2 separate regions of the Homo sapiens genome follow, and region 1 is linked to region 2. Evidence: fine-mapped expression QTL. A gene starts in region 2. The other region holds a variant in brackets. All regions are shown on one strand. Distances are from middle to middle.

What was found. PIP is the estimated chance that this variant, and not a neighbour inherited with it, causes the effect.
Region 1: its variant is fine-mapped to the expression of ZNF467 in whole blood (INTERVAL, PIP above 0.99).

Annotation. Positions count from the first base shown.
Region 1 is chr7:149,751,758-149,754,653 of GRCh38, forward strand. No RefSeq gene overlaps it. Among named protein-coding and RNA genes, the nearest start is that of ZNF467, 20 kb to the right of the region's middle. The variant T/C (reference allele first, on the strand shown) is at 1,593.
Region 2 is chr7:149,772,101-149,774,996 of GRCh38, forward strand. ZNF467 (zinc finger protein 467) reads right to left here and starts at 1,488. Exons shown (of 5, transcript NM_207336.3): 1 at 1,008-1,488. RefSeq lists a silencer at 931-1,110.

The DNA.
Region 1 (2,896 bases), 20 kb before region 2:
AGGTTCTTAAACCAGCTCTGCGGACCATGTGGGCCCACAGAGGGGCTTAAAGAGGGTGTCCACATACCCTCTAAAATTACGTGCAAATCATTGTTTCTATGCACATTACTCTGAAGGGAGCTTTAAACAACTAAATGCTTGGTGGTTTGCTAAAGGTTAGGAACCGACAGCCTAGAAAATTCTCAGGCCTCTCCAACACTGACATTCCTGCTTTCCCCTTTCTGTCTGCTTTCCTGAGTGTGGTTCTCAGCTCTCTTCTTAGTTCAGGTAGCTCTCTTCTCATCTAATACATATACTTTGCAGTAACGGCCAACGAAGGTGGTATATTACAGTGAGGCTTTAAATGGGACATGCAGAGTATGTGAAACATACCAGATATCTAACTCACATAATTGCATTTGAGCAGTAAGTTTAGCTTTAACCATCTCAGCAGCCACATGAAAAAATAGATCGCTGAATTTATTAACTTTGGGATTTGTGTTTGCTGTCACCCTGTCTTAGTTCACAGCTATAACTCTGCAGGGGTGGATTTTAGGCACTCAGATTATCCGGTAGGGGAGGGATTTTGAGATGGGTAGGCCTTGTAAAGGCTCCTCTTCCACCTGTACAATTCAACATACGTGTTGTGAGTGTTCAAATGTGCCAGGTCCTGGAAATACCAAGACAAAAAAACACGACTTCCGCCCTCGAGATGTTCCCAGTGGGCCTGGAGAGATGAGGCTCCTACAAGGGTGTAACCTTTCTAAACCCCGGTTTCCTTACCTGAGAAGTGAGGACAGCAACCCCGTACCAAAGGGGGCTTAGGGGAATTAAGTAGGAGCCTCAGTCACAGGAGGCACTCACACATTTTAGGCACACGCGGACACACCCAACAACTGCAGGCGACATCTGGTAAGGTGGGAAGCAGAGGAACCATGACAGCTTAAAGGAGGAGATTGTTGTGTGCTGGGATCATTGGGGAAGGACACCCCCAGGAGGTGGCCCCCATCTGTGCTCGAAAAATAGGTAGGATTTAAAAGGGAAGTCAGGGCAGTAGGCACTTTGTGATGGGGAAGCCCAGGGAGGCCGGGGCAGGAGGCAGGAAGGACCACACGGCCCGGAGACAGGAACAAGACCGCTTGGTGTAAGGGAGGGTGTGTACCCAGGAGGTTTGGAAAATAAGTTTCAAAAGTTTGTTGGGGCCAACTGTAGAGAGCCTTGAGTTAGAACAGACATGTATTGCACACTGGCTAGGTGGGCACTCTGCTCTGTGCCAGGGAAGCTTGCCACCCCCAGAGGGACACACAGAATAATGTGGCACAATGTGTCAACCGCTAAGGCCTCTGGATATTCAGATGAGCAGAAGTTTCTAAGCTGGGGCGTAATAAGTTATAAGGAAGATCAGCCTGACAGTTGGAGGATAGATGGGGAAGCAGGAGTTGGGGAGAAGTCAGAGGGGGACCTGATAGGAGAAGGTTGCCCACTGGCCTGGGCTTGGGGGGACAGTACTGGGAGGGTCAGGGGCAGCAGGGGCAGCAGGGCAGGCATCTGCAAAGGATGAGCGTGCTATGACGCGAGCTCCATCATTCTGGAGAAAGAGGATCCTGAGGCCT[T/C]AGGAGTTCTCCTGGAAGCCCCACAGTGAAATCTCAAGAGAGAAAATCCCAGCGAGGACAGGGACACTGGGCCCACGGGAATCCTGTCTTGCTGGGCCGGAGGGGAGCCCTGGGTCTGGCTCCTGTAGAGCCTGAAATAGAATCCGATTTGCGATGCCCCTAATGATGTTATGTAATGACATTGCATAAGCCCGTTACGTAAATCAAAGTCCTGCTATTGACCAAGAATGTCCCCTGCCCCAAGGCTGACCTAATCCCACGCCTGAAGGCTCAGTCCTTTGTGGCAGTTGGATAAATCTGTTTCCTAAAGCCTCTGTGAAACCCTCCCGACCTTAAAGTCTCTGTCTTTAGGGTTCCTGGGGCCTCCTTCTCCGTTGCTGCTTCTCCACTGTGGGAGGCCTCAGTGTGACACTCACTCATCCTTCCCCAGGTGAGGGTTCCCAGGGAAGGACAGGATTCCAGTCCTTCCACCAGCGTGGAATTGTGGCCGTGCGCCCTCTTCTGGGGGTCTTGCATACTCCCTCTGACTGTGAAATACAAGACTTGTCTCTGGTTAAAAGACATTTCAAGGATCAGTAAGTGAGTGAAGAAGTTTTCTTCCCTGTGGGGCATGGGTGGCCTCCCCAGGACCCTGGAGTTAACAACTACGAGCAGGTTCTTGAGTCCCAGGAGCAGAAAGAATCTTTCACTACTGGAAACCAGCATGTCCCGTGAACGCACTCACCAACCTGTCTGCCTTCAGTCGGCCCATCTGTCTCCCTGAACATACTAGCAGAAGCCCTCCCACCCTCAACCCACCTCGCCAACCCCCACCCCGGCTCCCCTTCAAGCCCTCTCCCCAGCATAGGCAACATCTTCCTCGGGAGGCTGTCTCCTTCCTTCATCTATGTCTCTCTACAAGTAAATCCTGGTGTGCACACCACCACCCCCGACACATAAACACAGTTTACAGAAACACCAAACAAAACAGTCATGTTTGATGGAAAAAGGCTGAGTTCCCAGTTGCTCTTAGTGTCTCCTAAAAGTCAACTGTTTACTGTCCTATCAAAGCTATTTTACTGTTATAGGACTAGGAAAAATTTAAATTTAAAAATCACACGAAGAATAAAGTAACACAAAGCAAAACTGTTTATGTTTTATCTTTTTTTTTTTTTTTTTCAGACAAGTTCTTGCTCTGTCACCCGGGCTGGAGTGCAGTGATACAATCTTGGTTTACTGTAACCTCAAACTCCTGGGCTCAAGGCATCCTCCTACCTCAGCCTCTTGAGTCACTAGGACTACAGGCCTGCTACCATGCCTGGGTA
Region 2 (2,896 bases):
CCTCCTCTCAGCTCTTTTCCCCAACCCAGTTCTCCTCTCCCCTCCCTCCTCTCCTCCCCCACCCCGGTTTCCCTTCCTTCTCCTTTCCTCGCCTCACCTCGGTTCCCTTCCCCTCCCCCTTTCCAGCCCTCCCCCACGTCTCCCCACCGCCCTCCCCCTCCCCCCTCCCTTCTGCAGCTCTCCTTCCCCTCCGAGGCCCCCGCCTCCCTTCCCCCTCTGTCTCCCCAGCAGGCTCCAGCTTCGCTTCCCTCCCCGTCCCCAGTCCCCAGAACCGCTCTTCCCCTCCCCCCTCCCAGGCTGCTTCCCAGCTCCCGGGTCCTCCGGCCCCCAAGCCTGGGGGTCTAGGGCTGACCCGCTCTCTCGGGACCTTCCCGCGGGCCCTGCCCTCCCCACTCCGTCTCCCCTCCGAACACCCCTCCGCGCCTCTCTTCTCCGCCGCGGCGCCCCCTCCCTATTTCTGCTCCCCTCGGACTTCTCACCCCTCCCAAGTTTTCCTCCCGACGGGACCCTCAGCTCCACCTCCCTGCCCCGCCGCCCTCCCAAGCAGCTCCGATCGCCGACTTCATTCCAGGTCCCGGCCCCCTCCCCAGCTCCGGGGCTCACCTGTCAGCGCCCTCCTCTCCCGCCCCTACCGAGTGGCCCGGTCCCCAGCGCCCGCTTCTTCCTCCCCTTCCCCCTCGGCCCCCTCCCACACTCCCTCTCTCCTCCCCTCGGGGCCCGTCGTCCCCCTTCCCACCTGCCTCCCGCCCGACCCCCTCCCAGCCCCCGCCCTTCCCTCCAGCCCCCCCGGTCTCCTCTACCCCCACAGCCCTCACCCTGCCCGCGCCGGCCTTGCCCTCCCTTCCCCCCAGCCCCCGACCTCCCCGGACCCGCGCCCCTCCCCCACGCCCGCCGTCCGCGCCCCTACCCCCGGGGCTGTCACCTGCGCGGAGCCGGCCGTGACCCAACCGCGGCGCTGAGGGAGACGCGGGCGGGGCCGCCTGCAGAGGAGCCTCCCCGGCCCTTACCTGGCTGGCCGGCCGCTCCGCCCGCGCCGCGGGGACCCAGGCGCCCGGGCCTCCTGCCCCGCCGGCTCTGCTCACAATGGCGCTCGCCGCCTGCAGCTCGGGTGCTGACGGCCTGAAAGACTGACAGACTGACAGCCCCGAAACTTCGCGGGGAGGAGAGGGATAGACGCGCGGGGAGTCGAAGCCGGGAAACGGCGCCTGCAAGGGAGGAGGGACCGAGGGAGCGGGCGGAGAGCCCCGGCGCACCGGGCTGGGGGAGGCAGGGGCAGGGGGTTTCAGGAGTGGGGTCCCAGGAGGGAGCACCGTGGGCTTAGGTGGGCAGGTGATGGTCCTAAGGCTCCGAGCCTGGAGTAGGTGTGGAAGTGGGAGCTCAGGACGGGGGAGGGGAGGGGAGGGGAGGGGAGGGTGATGGGAGAGGGGGTGGAGGAGGGCGAGGAGGCTGGGGAGGACAGGCACTCGGGCTGCGGGGAAGGGTGCCAAGGGAGGGTGCTCGCGGCCGCGGAGGGAGGAGCCGGGGAAAGGTGGAGCGCGAACGGGTGGGGGGGTGGCGGGGAGGAGTTGGGGGAACGAGGAGGGGCCGTGTCGGGGGGGAGCCAGCGAGTCGTGCGCTGCCGTCTCTAAGTCGCCGGTGCCAGCCGGGTGTGCAGCGCCGCGCTCCCGCGGGAGGACGGCCCGGGGGGTCGGTCTGGGAAACTCCGGCCCCGCCCCCATTCTCCACCCGGATTCCACCCCGATCCACCCAGACCCGCAGCCCCTCGCCTGGAGTCCCGAGGACCCGATTCGAAACCAGCCGCGGGAGCCGTGGGGGCAGGCGGGAGAGAGGGCTGGGCCCCTGTGCTTGCGAGAACGGGTCCTTCGAAGTAGAAACTGGGGAGAGGACTTTAAGCCAGGTCCCCTGGGAGAAGGCCGGGCCAGGTCGGGAGCTCCAGGGGGCAAGGCTGGGACGGGGCTGGGCGGAGATTCTGAGGGCGGGGTCCGGGGGAGGGTCTGGGAGGGGGCTGCAGAGAGGGGAGGGCTCTATGGGCGGGAGACGATTGCTGGGGGGCCTGCTGGCCCGGACACCACCTGGAGTTAGATGTGGAGGGCAGCCCTCAGCCCTCAGCCCTCAGCCCCAGCTCCTCAGGGGACTCCACTCGCCCTCCCTGCCCAGGTTACGAGGTTTCTCCTTGGCCTTGTTCCCGCTGCGCCCACTCCTGAAAGCTCCGGAGATGCTGAAGTCTGGACTGTTAGTTCCCGGTCTCCTCTCCATGAACTTTCTCCAAACCCCTGGGTTCCAGCTTCCTCCCTTCTGCCCCTTTACGGGAAAGGGTGACTGCAACTCGGGTCTCTTCCCAATCCCAGTGCTGCCTGATCAGCCCCGGTTTGAATCCAGAGCTGAGTGAGGCTGGGAAGGGGAGGGTGTGAATGGCCCTTGAGCTCCTGCTACCACAGCCCACCACAAGGATGAGTGCCTGGAAGAGCGCCCATCACTCGGGCTCAGCTGTGAAGGCTCCTCTGCCTCCAGGATGAAGGGAGCACCTGGAGTAGCATGTGTCACTGTGCGTGCTGGGGTGTGGCCGAGCACCTGTGCCGGTGTTGTGAGACTTACAGTGAGAGTGTGCATGTGTGTAAAACAGGAAAGGGGGGTGTCTGGGTGTGCGTGTGGCTCTTTCTGAGGACTCCAGAGCAGGAGTTGATCCCAGTCATCCGTGACCCCCTGAGAGACTCACTCTGGGCCCTTTTTTGGCCCTGGGACCAATGGTGAACCCAGGAGAAGGAGAGCCCGGCCCAGCTCTGGTTAACAGCAGCCCCCTTCCTCCCCTAGGTGGAATGACTCTACAGGATACTCGGAGGGATATCAGGTTTAGGAGACCGAGGGGTGTGGAGTCGGAGCCAGGCTGCATTCCAGC